Homo sapiens: one gene and its partners. The protein of the gene in region 2 purifies or fractionates together with the protein of the main gene of each other region. This does not show direct contact. Each region holds a gene or a part of one and is shown on either strand. Other genes may lie near its edges. The genes, in order: KLHL17, DCN and PLAT.

What was found.
Region 1: the proteins of DCN (region 2) and KLHL17 purify together in Homo sapiens (affinity purification with mass spectrometry; 3 studies listed by BioGRID and IntAct, with this or other methods). This does not show direct contact.
Region 3: the proteins of DCN (region 2) and PLAT purify together in Homo sapiens (affinity purification with mass spectrometry, with the first as the bait; one large-scale study listed by BioGRID). This does not show direct contact.

Annotation. Positions count from the first base shown.
Region 1 is NC_000001.11:963,540-966,328, reverse strand, and holds the end of KLHL17 (kelch-like protein 17), read right to left. Parts: intron 2,410-2,789; coding exon 2,321-2,409; intron 2,223-2,320; coding exon 2,149-2,222; intron 1,981-2,148; coding exon 1,799-1,980; intron 1,367-1,798; coding exon 1,138-1,366; 3' UTR 610-1,137; downstream 1-609. UniProt on the Homo sapiens protein: Substrate-recognition component of some cullin-RING-based BCR (BTB-CUL3-RBX1) E3 ubiquitin-protein ligase complexes. The BCR(KLHL17) complex mediates the ubiquitination and subsequent degradation of GLUR6. May play a role in the actin-based neuronal function.
Region 2 is NC_000012.12:91,148,215-91,151,867, reverse strand, and holds part of DCN (decorin isoform a preproprotein), read left to right. Parts: intron 1-75; coding exon 76-214; intron 215-3,653. UniProt on the Homo sapiens protein: May affect the rate of fibrils formation.
Region 3 is NC_000008.11:42,179,975-42,183,627, forward strand, and holds part of PLAT (tissue-type plasminogen activator isoform 1 preproprotein), read right to left. Parts: intron 2,917-3,653; coding exon 2,745-2,916; intron 2,049-2,744; coding exon 1,963-2,048; intron 712-1,962; coding exon 516-711; intron 405-515; coding exon 268-404; intron 93-267; coding exon 1-92. UniProt on the Homo sapiens protein: Converts the abundant, but inactive, zymogen plasminogen to plasmin by hydrolyzing a single Arg-Val bond in plasminogen.

The DNA of each region.
Region 1 (2,789 bases), on a different chromosome or scaffold from region 2:
GCAAGCACCCCTCTGGCCCAGACGAGGCCTCCAGTGTGCAGAGGTACCCCACCTGCTTGTGCTCCGGCTTGGTGAACCCGGGGCGACCTTCCAGGCCCCCCGGGACAACGTGCCCACACATCCTGTTTCCATCTAAACTCTGGCCGGCCCGAGTCACCGGTGACTGCAGGGAGGGCTGAGGCAGGAGTTCCAGCACAGGAGACGGCGGCCAAAGCCACCGCAGCCTCCCCTCCTGCCTGGGCCCCCTCGCCACAGACCCGAGTCAGGGTCCCCAAGGCTTAAGGGGACTCAGGGAGGCCACATGCCCCCTAGACGGCCAAGACAGTCAGCGCACTCGGGGGCAAGGCTGTCCTCCCCAGCCCTAACCCCAGAGCCCACGATGTGGCGGGGACCTCGGCCTCAGTACCCAGCCCAGGCAAACGCCACCCACACTGGGACGCTGGTCCACAGGAACTGCACGGCCCCCACCCTCCCTGGACGCACAGCTCTGCCTTGCAGCTCCCAGATGCCTGCGCATCTCAGGGCACCCCCCCACACCCCTCACCCTGGACCCCAGACAGGACCCAAAGTTGCGCAGCTGCCCCACATGCCAGAGAGAGATGCTCAGCCTGAGGAACCCCAGAAATGTGTTTATTAAGTTGGACTCGTATTGCTGTGTGGGGTCCCAGTGCACGCGTGTGCACCCACTACAAGATCCAGGAAAGATGGCACACGGCAGACGACGACAGGAAGGACAACTGCTCCCCACCCTTCCCGGGACCCCGCCATGTGCAAAATTCGAGCTGGGGTCTGCAGCTGCTTGGAGAGACCCAGGGCCTCTTGCTCCACAGCCTGCAAGGTCTGAGCAGGCAACGGCCCTGGGGCGGTGAGGCCCCCGCCTGGTCACTCCCCGCGCCCCCCATGCAGGCAGTGGAGGGGAGGACACGCAGGAGGACCAGACGCTAAAGGTGTAAACGGGCAGCCGTGGCACTCCTCACCCCTCAATAAATAAGATAAATAACTAAATAAATAAACAACTAAATAAAGACATGAAGGAATGGATGCAGAGACGTGAACGGATGGCGCAGGACGTCCCTGGTGGGGGCCACGGTCCCCTTAAGGCATGTGGGAGGCTGCAGGCCTCTGGTGGTAGGTGGGTCAGAGGCTGGTGGAGGACACGGACAGCGTCGGGGAGGATGGCGGCGGGAAATTGAGCAGCTCCAGCACCGCCACACCCACACTGCTGCGCCGGGTGAACATGCAGGATGCGGCCACCCACTTGTTGGTCCTCGGGTTGTACTTCTCGATGGAGTTGAGGCTGGAGCTACCGTCGTTACCCCCCACGGCGTACAACCATCCGTCCATGGCCACCAGGTCATGCGTGCTCCTGGGGGGAAGGCGGGGTGAGCCCCTGGCTGCAGGAAGGGATGCGGGGGGAGGGGCTGCACCACAAAAAGGGGTGGTGGCGGGACATGCTCGCTGAGGTTGGGAGAACTCCCTTCTCACAGCACATCCCCACTGCGGACCCGCGCCCCCCTCCCGGCAGCACATCCCCACTGCGGACCCGCGCCCCCCTCCCGGCAGCACATCCCCACTGCGGACCCGCGCCCCCCTCCCGGCAGCACATCCCCACTGCGGACCCGCGCCCCCCTCCCGGCAGCACATCCCCACTGCGGACCCGCGCCCCCCTCCCGGCAGCACATCCCCACTGCGGACCCGCGCCCCCCTCCCCGCAGCACATCCCCACTGCGGACGCGCGGACCCCTCCCACAGCCCCACTGCGGACCCGCGCCCCCCTCCCCGCAGCCCCACTGCGGACCTGCGGATATTCATGGGCGCCACGCTTTCCCAGGCTCCAGCCTTTGGACTGTATCTCTCTACCGAGTTGAGGCAGCTGGTGCCGTCGTTGCCCCCTGCCACGTACAGGGCACCCTCCAGCACGGCCACGCCCGCTGAGCTGCGTCGGCTCAGCATGGACGCCACGGGCGACCACACGTTCACCTGGGGGCGAGGGCGTGGGCTGGACGCAGACCCGCCACTGGCATCCCTCCTCTGCCGCAGCCCCGACTCCAGGGTGGGGTGTCAGGAATGGGGGGGATGTGGGTAAACAGAGGGAGGAGGGCCCCGCGGCGCACGGGAGGGGGTGGCCAGGAGGGGTGCACTATGCACCTGGGGCTCATACTTCTCCACAGTGGCCAGGTGTGAGGAGCTGTCGTAGCCGCCCACAGCATACAGGTTCCCATCTGCCGGAAGTCAACACACCCGTGGCACTCCTGCTGGGAGTGGGGTCTCCACGGTGGGGGAAGGTGGGGATGCCCCCCAGGCAGGCCCCATCACCCACCAAGCGTGGCCACTCGCACATAGCGCCTCCGGGTGCTCATGGCAGCGACGGACGTCCACGTTCCGGTCAGGGGGTCGTAGCGTTCAGCACTGTGGGCACCAGGACCGCAGCCACAGCTCAGCAGAGACAGAAAGGCGTCCCGGCCCCAGGACCTGCCCTCCCCAGCGGAATGGCTGAAATCTTACCCTAGGAGTCAAACTCAGACCGCAAAGTCCTACCAGGCAGGGCCCGCTGGTGGGCACAGGACCCTGGCTGCCTGAACAACCCTGGGTGCACACCCACCTGGGCCCAGCCTCTGGACTGGGGGTAAGGACCCGAGAGAGGAAAGGGCACTGGGGCAGCAAAGCCAAGAGTTCAGGCCCAGTGTGGCAGTGGCCTGGGGTGAAACGGCCTCGCGGATCACCTCCTTTAACACCCCATCAGATACGACCCCTGTGATGGTGACACAAACTTGCCTCTTGCAGATGGA
Region 2 (3,653 bases):
TTGATTAACTACACAATGCTTGTAAGAAAGGCATCCATGTGTGGTGTTTGCTTTCATTTCTGCTTTCTGTTGCAGGTTGGGATTGAGTTTCAACAGCATCTCTGCTGTTGACAATGGCTCTCTGGCCAACACGCCTCATCTGAGGGAGCTTCACTTGGACAACAACAAGCTTACCAGAGTACCTGGTGGGCTGGCAGAGCATAAGTACATCCAGGTAATGCAAAGCCACTGCTTATGTGAGGAATATCCAAAAAGCAAGACCCCCACCCTGCTTATGGGATGCTGGGAAGCAGGAAGCTCTTCTTAGAAGTTTTTTTTCCAGAGTGTCTTAGTTAGAATTTCTATGACAAAATACCATAAAAAAAATTAAATCATGAAGCACAATTTACATTAGCTAGATTTCAATAAAGTTTTTGATTTAGAAGTATGGAGATGAAACTTAAAGTCTTCTGTAATGCTGATATTTTTTTCAGTAGGGGTGGTGATGTTGGTGCCATAGTGAGTAGGGGGAGTTTGAAGCCACAAGTAAAATAAAAATTCTTTTTTTTTACTGTCACTAATTTTAATTTTCAAATTATTCAAGAATTGACTGGAAAGAGCTTCTTTGGTCTAGCTCCTGATTCTTTTTGACATGGCCTCATCATTTTTCTTTATTTCCTCTAAAAAAAAAATGAGATACGTTTGCAGAATGTGCAGGTTTGTTATATAGGTATACGTGTGCCATGGTGGTTTGCTGGCCCTACTGACCCATCCTCTAAGTTCGCCCGCTCACCCCCTACCCCCTGTTGTGTGTTTTGTTACCCTCTCTGTGTCCGTGTGTTCTCAGCATTCAACTTCCATTTATGCGTGAGAACATGCAGTATTTGGTTTTCTGTTCCTGTGTTAGTTTGCTGAGGATGATGGCTTCTAGTTTCATCCATGTCCTTGTAAAGGACATGATCCCATTCCTTTTTATGGCTGCATAGTATTCCACGGTGTATATGTACCACATTTCCTTTATCCAGTCTATCATTGATGTGCATTTGGATTGGTTCCATGTTTTTGCTATTGTAAAATAGTGCTGCAATAAACATTATGTGTGCATATGTCTTTATAGTAGAATGATTTATATTTCTTTGGGTATATACCCAGTAATGGGATTGCTGGGTCAAATGGTATTTCTGGTTCTACATCCTTGAGGAATTGCTACACTGTCTTTCACAATGGTTGAACTAATTTATGCTCTCACCAACAATGTAAAAGCACTCCTATTTCTCCACAGCCTCATCAGCATCTACTGTTTCCTGACTTTTTAATAATCACCATACTGACTGGCATGAGATAATATCTCATCTCCAGCCACAGGGAATCATTAATCTATTTTATCATTTTTGTTTGTTTCATAGACCATAGTTTTGTGTAGATTCCAGGAATACTTTAACATCTAGAAATTTTATAATTTTAACTCCTGTATTTGGTTTTATAATCTAATTTTGAGATAATCCTAGTATATGATATGAGTCTAATTCATTTTCTGTATGTGATAGCAATTGTCCCAATGTCATTTGTTGGAAATAATATTCTTTCTCCAATGAATTGTCTTGTCACTGTTGAAAATCACTCGATCATAAATGTAAGGGTTTATTTCTGGACTTTCAATTCTATTACATTTATCTATATGTCTAGTCATATGACAGTATTATACCCTTCAATTACTGTAGCTTTTGATTACGTTTTGAAATTAGAAAATGTAGGTTCTCCAACTTTGTTCTTTTTTTTCAAAGTTATTTTGGCTATTCTGGTTCCTTTGCATTCCATATCAATTTTAGGATCTACTTTTTCATTTCTGGAAAAATATTCTTGTAAGGCTTTGAAAGGTATTGTTTTGAATCTACAGATCATTGGGAAGAATTACTATCTTAATAATATTGAGCCTTCCAAGTCACAAACAAGGGTTATTTATATCTTCTTTTCTTTTTCTCAACAGTTTTTGTCATTTTTAGCATACATGCCTTGCAATTCTTTTACTACATTCATTGTTTTTCATTCTTTTTGATGCTGTTTTGAATTGTTAATTTTTTTATTTGTTTGCTGCTAATGTATAAACATACAATTGATGTTTATATATTGAGCTATCCTGGTACTATGCCAAATTTGTTTTTAGTTGCAGTAATTTTTGTGAGTTCCTTTGGATATTCTATATTCAGGATATATTATTTAAAAATAGACAGCTTTAGTTATTTTATTTGGATTCTTTTAGGTCTCCCCCTCCCCCACAACCCACCCTTTGCATTGGCTGGAATCGCCAGTGCAATGTTGAACAAAGGTGATGAAATTAGACATCTTTGCCTTATTTGCTAGTTTAGGAGGAGGGAGCATTCATTTTACCATTAGTTACGATGTTAGCCACAGGTCTTCTATAGATGCTCTTTATCAAGTTGAGGAAGTTCCCTTCTATTTCTGATTTACTGAAAACATTTATTATGAATTTTTTTCTTACATGTTTTTCCTGCTTCTATTGAGATAATCATGCGAGTTTTGGCCTTTATATTTTTGATATAGTGTATTACATTGATATTACTTTGATTGATTTTCATAAGTTAAACCAATTTTACAACCCTGAGATAAATCATGTTTGGTCCTATAGCATGAAATCATTTTATATGTTGTGAAATGTAGCTTCCTAACATTTTGTGAAAGATTTTTTGTCCATATTCATAAGAGGTATTTGATTACATTTTTTTTTCTTATGATGAATTTTGTCTGGCTTTGGTCTTAGAAAATATTGACCCCATAGAATGAGTTTGGAATCTACTTTTATTTTGTTCTACACAGACTAATACTTACGTCTTGATATTTTGTTCTCTCACTTTCAATATTAACCATAAATTGCTCACCAAACACCCCTTCCTTTACTTGCTAATCACTACTGGAATATAGAGGATGGTAAATGACAACAAGAAACTTCCAAAATATGAGAACCATAAACCATACATATAAGTGTTGCTTTCACTTTAATATTCCTTGTTTCTGTTTTTATATGACATCTACTAATTCGCTTTTCAGCCCTTACAAAAACAAAGCCGTTTTCACCAGCACATGAATGTGAATGTCCTAGTGGGTAGAACAATATTTCAAATTTTTTTTTTTTTTTTTTTTTTTTTTTTGAGTCGGAGCGTCTCGCTCTGTCACCTAGGCTGGACTGCATACAATGGCACAATCTCGGCTCACTGCAACCTCCGCCTCTCGGGTTCAAGAAATTCTCCTGCCTCAGCCTCCCGAGTAGCTGGGATTACAGGCACGTGCCGCCATGCCATGCTAATTTTTGTATTTTTAGTAGAAACGGGGTTTCATCATGTTGGTGAGGCTGGTCTTGAACACCTGACCTCATGATCCATCCGCCTCGGCCTCCCAAAGTGCTGAGATTACAGACATAAGCCACCACGCCCAGGCTTTCAAGTTATGTTTTAAGGGAGTACTTCATAGGTTTTATAGCTCACTTAAGATCTTGTTGGTGGCAGGACGCAGTGGCTCATGCCAGTAATCCCAGCACTTTGGGAGGCTGAGGTGGGCGGATCACGATGTCAGGAGATCGAGACCATCCTGGCTAACATGGTGAAACCCCCTCTCTACTAAAAATACAAAAAATTAGCCGGGCGTGGTGGTGGGCGCCT
Region 3 (3,653 bases), on a different chromosome or scaffold from region 2:
CAGCTGCAGGTCCGCCGGGGGAAGGCACACAGTGCGGACCACGCTGCTCTCCTGGGCACAGCGGGACGAATCCGATTTCAGCTGCAGCAGCGCTGGGAGGGAGAAAGGAGGAGTGAGCTGGCGTGAGGGCCGCGTCCCCGGGAGGGGAGGAACACGCAGGAGGGGCAGGGGCTGGAGGAGGAGGCCCGTGTGTGTAAACATAGGTGAGTGCATGTGGGTGTGTTGTGTGATCTGTATGAACTGGAGCCGGGAATGACGAGCTCTTACCAATGTCATTGTCGTAAGTGTCATCATCGAATTCCTTATGGACAATGTATTTTTCGACTTCAAATTTCTGCTCCTCCTCGCCAGGGACCACCCGGTATGTTCTGCCCAAGATCACCGTCAGGTGGTGGGGCGGAAACCTGGTGGAGAAACAGCCTTAGAATGCTTTTTTTGCTGTGGGATTTCCCCTAAAGGGCTTGGTTTCTAGGCGTTAGAGGGTGGAAAAACCAACTGGGTTTCCGAGCCCCTACCTCTCCTGGAAGCAGTGGGCGGCAGAGAGAATCCAGCAGGAGCTGATGAGTATGCCCCCGCACAGGAACCGCTCTCCGGGCGACCTCCTGTGCTTGGCAAAGATGGCAGCCTGCCAGGGGTGGGAGGCGATGTCGGCGAAGAGCCCTCCTTTGATGCGAAACTGAGGCTGGCTGTACTGTCTCAGGCCGCAGGTGGCTGGGGAGGAAAGGACGAGGAGGCAGTCAGTCCCACAGGCCTCCTGCACGTGTGTAGGTAGAGTGAGGAGGCCATCAGCATGGCTGTAAAACCACAACTTTCACTTGGTGGGATCAGCATGCCGAATGTTGTCCATACATTCTCTTTAGTTCCCACAGCGATAAGTTTCAGGAGGCGGAGACGTTTTTGCCCAAGGTTGCAATGGCACCTGGATTAGTTCCCAAGTATGTTTGACTCCAAAACTGGGGATCTGCCATCCTTCATTCCTTCTAATGTTTTCCTACAGCCATTTCCTGGCCTAAGAAATGAAGAATTGCAGCTTCCTTCTGTGGAATGTCTGCTCATTTCTTTTCCATCTGTCCAACCTTACCCATGCTTCAAGGCCCAGGTGCAATCCTGCCTCCTCGCAAAGCTTTCCTGACGTCCCCACCTGCTCAGCTCTGAGGAGCTTAGGGACACGGACCACTGAGGACTCACACTAATGCCCTTGGGTGTGAGTTAGCTGGTGGTCTGTGTCTCATCGTCCCAGTTGGACTTGTGTTCCTTGGGGAACATTCTGGCTGATCTGTGTTCACAGGAGGTGATTAATAACCTACTCTCTGGCCATTTCCAAACTAAAGTTTCATTTTTTAGCAATATGCACCAACTTGAATCTCCTATCTCTCACCCACATCATGAGCCAGCTCCCCTGTGTGAAATAGGTCAACAGGAAACGTGGAAGATCTCACAGTGGAAGTACATGCCATTGGGGTCAGAGGGCATGAGGGCAGGCCCTAGCTTTACCTCCCGGTGCCCAGCGAGCTTGGGCAGGCCACCTGGCGTCTGGGAGACTGCTTCCTACTCAGTAAACTGGAGGTAGGAAGACCACCTCCACCACGCTGTTGGACAAATGTGGTGAAGGCACTTTATTATCTAAGGAGCCATGCATGCGAGGCCTCCTCCTCATTCCCCATTACTCTCAGCAACACCAATAGAGGCGTCTAGAGAGAGCCGGGTAGAGCCTACTGACTTCTCAGAGAGGTTGCTGTGTTCTTTTCTTTCTTCTTGCCCCTCCCCACCACCCCCATGCATGGGTCATGGACACCCGCCCACCCACCGTGGCTTCAGTCATGGAAGCCCCCTCCCCACCCAGCCTGGAAGTCTGGTAGGCACACAGTCTGCACCAGACAGCCATGAAGGCCTAGAAAGTGGCGAGGAGATGGTGAAGAAGGGAGACCAGGTGCAGGGAGGCAGCCGGGGCCCAGCCCTTACAGCAGGAGGGCACATCACAGTACTCCCACGTCAGCCTGCGGTTCTTCAGCACGTGGCACCAGGGCTTGGCATCCCCATCAGGATTCCTAAATGATAAGAGAGTTTAAGGTTTCCTTTTTATCTTCTTATTTTTTAATTTTTGTAGAGATGGGGTCTTGCCATGTTGCCCAGGCTGGTCTTGAACTCCTGGGCTCAAGCAATCCTCCTGCCTCAGCCTCCCAAAGTGCTGGGATTACAGGCATGCACCACCACACCAGGCCAGGAGTTTAAGATTTTCAATCCCATTTTCAGCCACATCACAGGCCATGTAAGAGTAGAAGGAGACTCAGTCAACCAATGAAAACCACTGAGCTGGGAGGGAGGACACCGAGTTCATCTTGACCTTGCAGCACACCCCCACCCTAGGAGAACTTCTCTTTAACTTTGTTACCCAGTCAGTAATGTAGTGTTCTAATCTCATAGGGTTGTCAGACAGAACTGTGAGCTGTCCTGTTACGGAACTCTTACAAATCATTGCAATAAAGATGTCAGGAGAACAGCTGAGGACTAAATGGTTACAGGCCAGGACCCTTAACTTGGGATTTAGGTTGGAAAACTGGTAGACCTTGCTTTTCACAATATGTGTTATTCTAGCAAGTGAAGAGGTTGGATTAGATAATATCCATGGGTGCTTCCCACGCACTGGGTCTGTCATGCAACTTGAGACATTGGATCTTCCCCCGTCTCACACCCTAATCCCACGTTCTGCCAAGACCTGAACCCCCCACCCCTGTGCTACCTACCGGCAGTAATTATGTTTGCCCAGGCCCAGTGCCTGGGCACTGGGGTTCTGTGCTGTGTAAACCTTGCCTATCAGGATCATGGAATTCCACGGGAGGCAGGAGGCACCCGACTCGGTGAGGCTGTGCGTGCCACGGTAGGCTGACCCATTCCCAAAGTAGCAGTCACTGTTTCCTAGAAGAAAAGAATTCTCAAACTGAAACAAAAACAAATTCTGAAGCACGCAAGTCAGGGCTGGGGCTTGAAGCGGAGCTGCCGGTCGAGGAAGCTGGAGGCCGCTAGCCCGGCACTGAGAAGAGTGTAACACCTCACACTTCCCCTTTTGTTGCCCAGGCTGGAGTGCAATGCGCGATCTTGGCTCACTGCAATCTCCACCTCCTGGGTTCAAGCGATTCTTCTACCTCAGCCTCCCGAGTAGGTGGGGTTACAGGCATGCGCCACCATGCTACGCTAATTTTGTATTTTTAGTTGAGACAGGGTTTCACCATGTTGGCCAGGCTGGTCTTGAACTCCTAACATCAGGTGATCTGCCCGCCTCAGCCTCCCAAAGTGCTGGGAGTACAGGTGTGAGCCAACACGCCCGGCCTGAGCCTTTTTCCCCCTCTTTGAGTCCTTTTACTTAGAGATGGCAAGGGGGTTTCATCTCCACCGGAAGTGGCTCCCTAGATTGCTATGTTGAGAGAGAGTCTGGGGACATCTTCAGGTTCAGCAGGAAGAACCACTTCCATGAGTGGGGGCTGTTTCTGAAGCTGCTTTGAAAGCCAGTAGGGGTTTCCTTGTGTTACTTAACAGGCTGCAGTGAACCAACGTGCTTCAGTGGGGCTGGGGTGGGGGTTATTTCTCGGACTGTGTCTGCCAGTGTCCTGAGGATCTGATGATGGGCTTGGGAAGGAGGAGGGTATGAGCCGTGG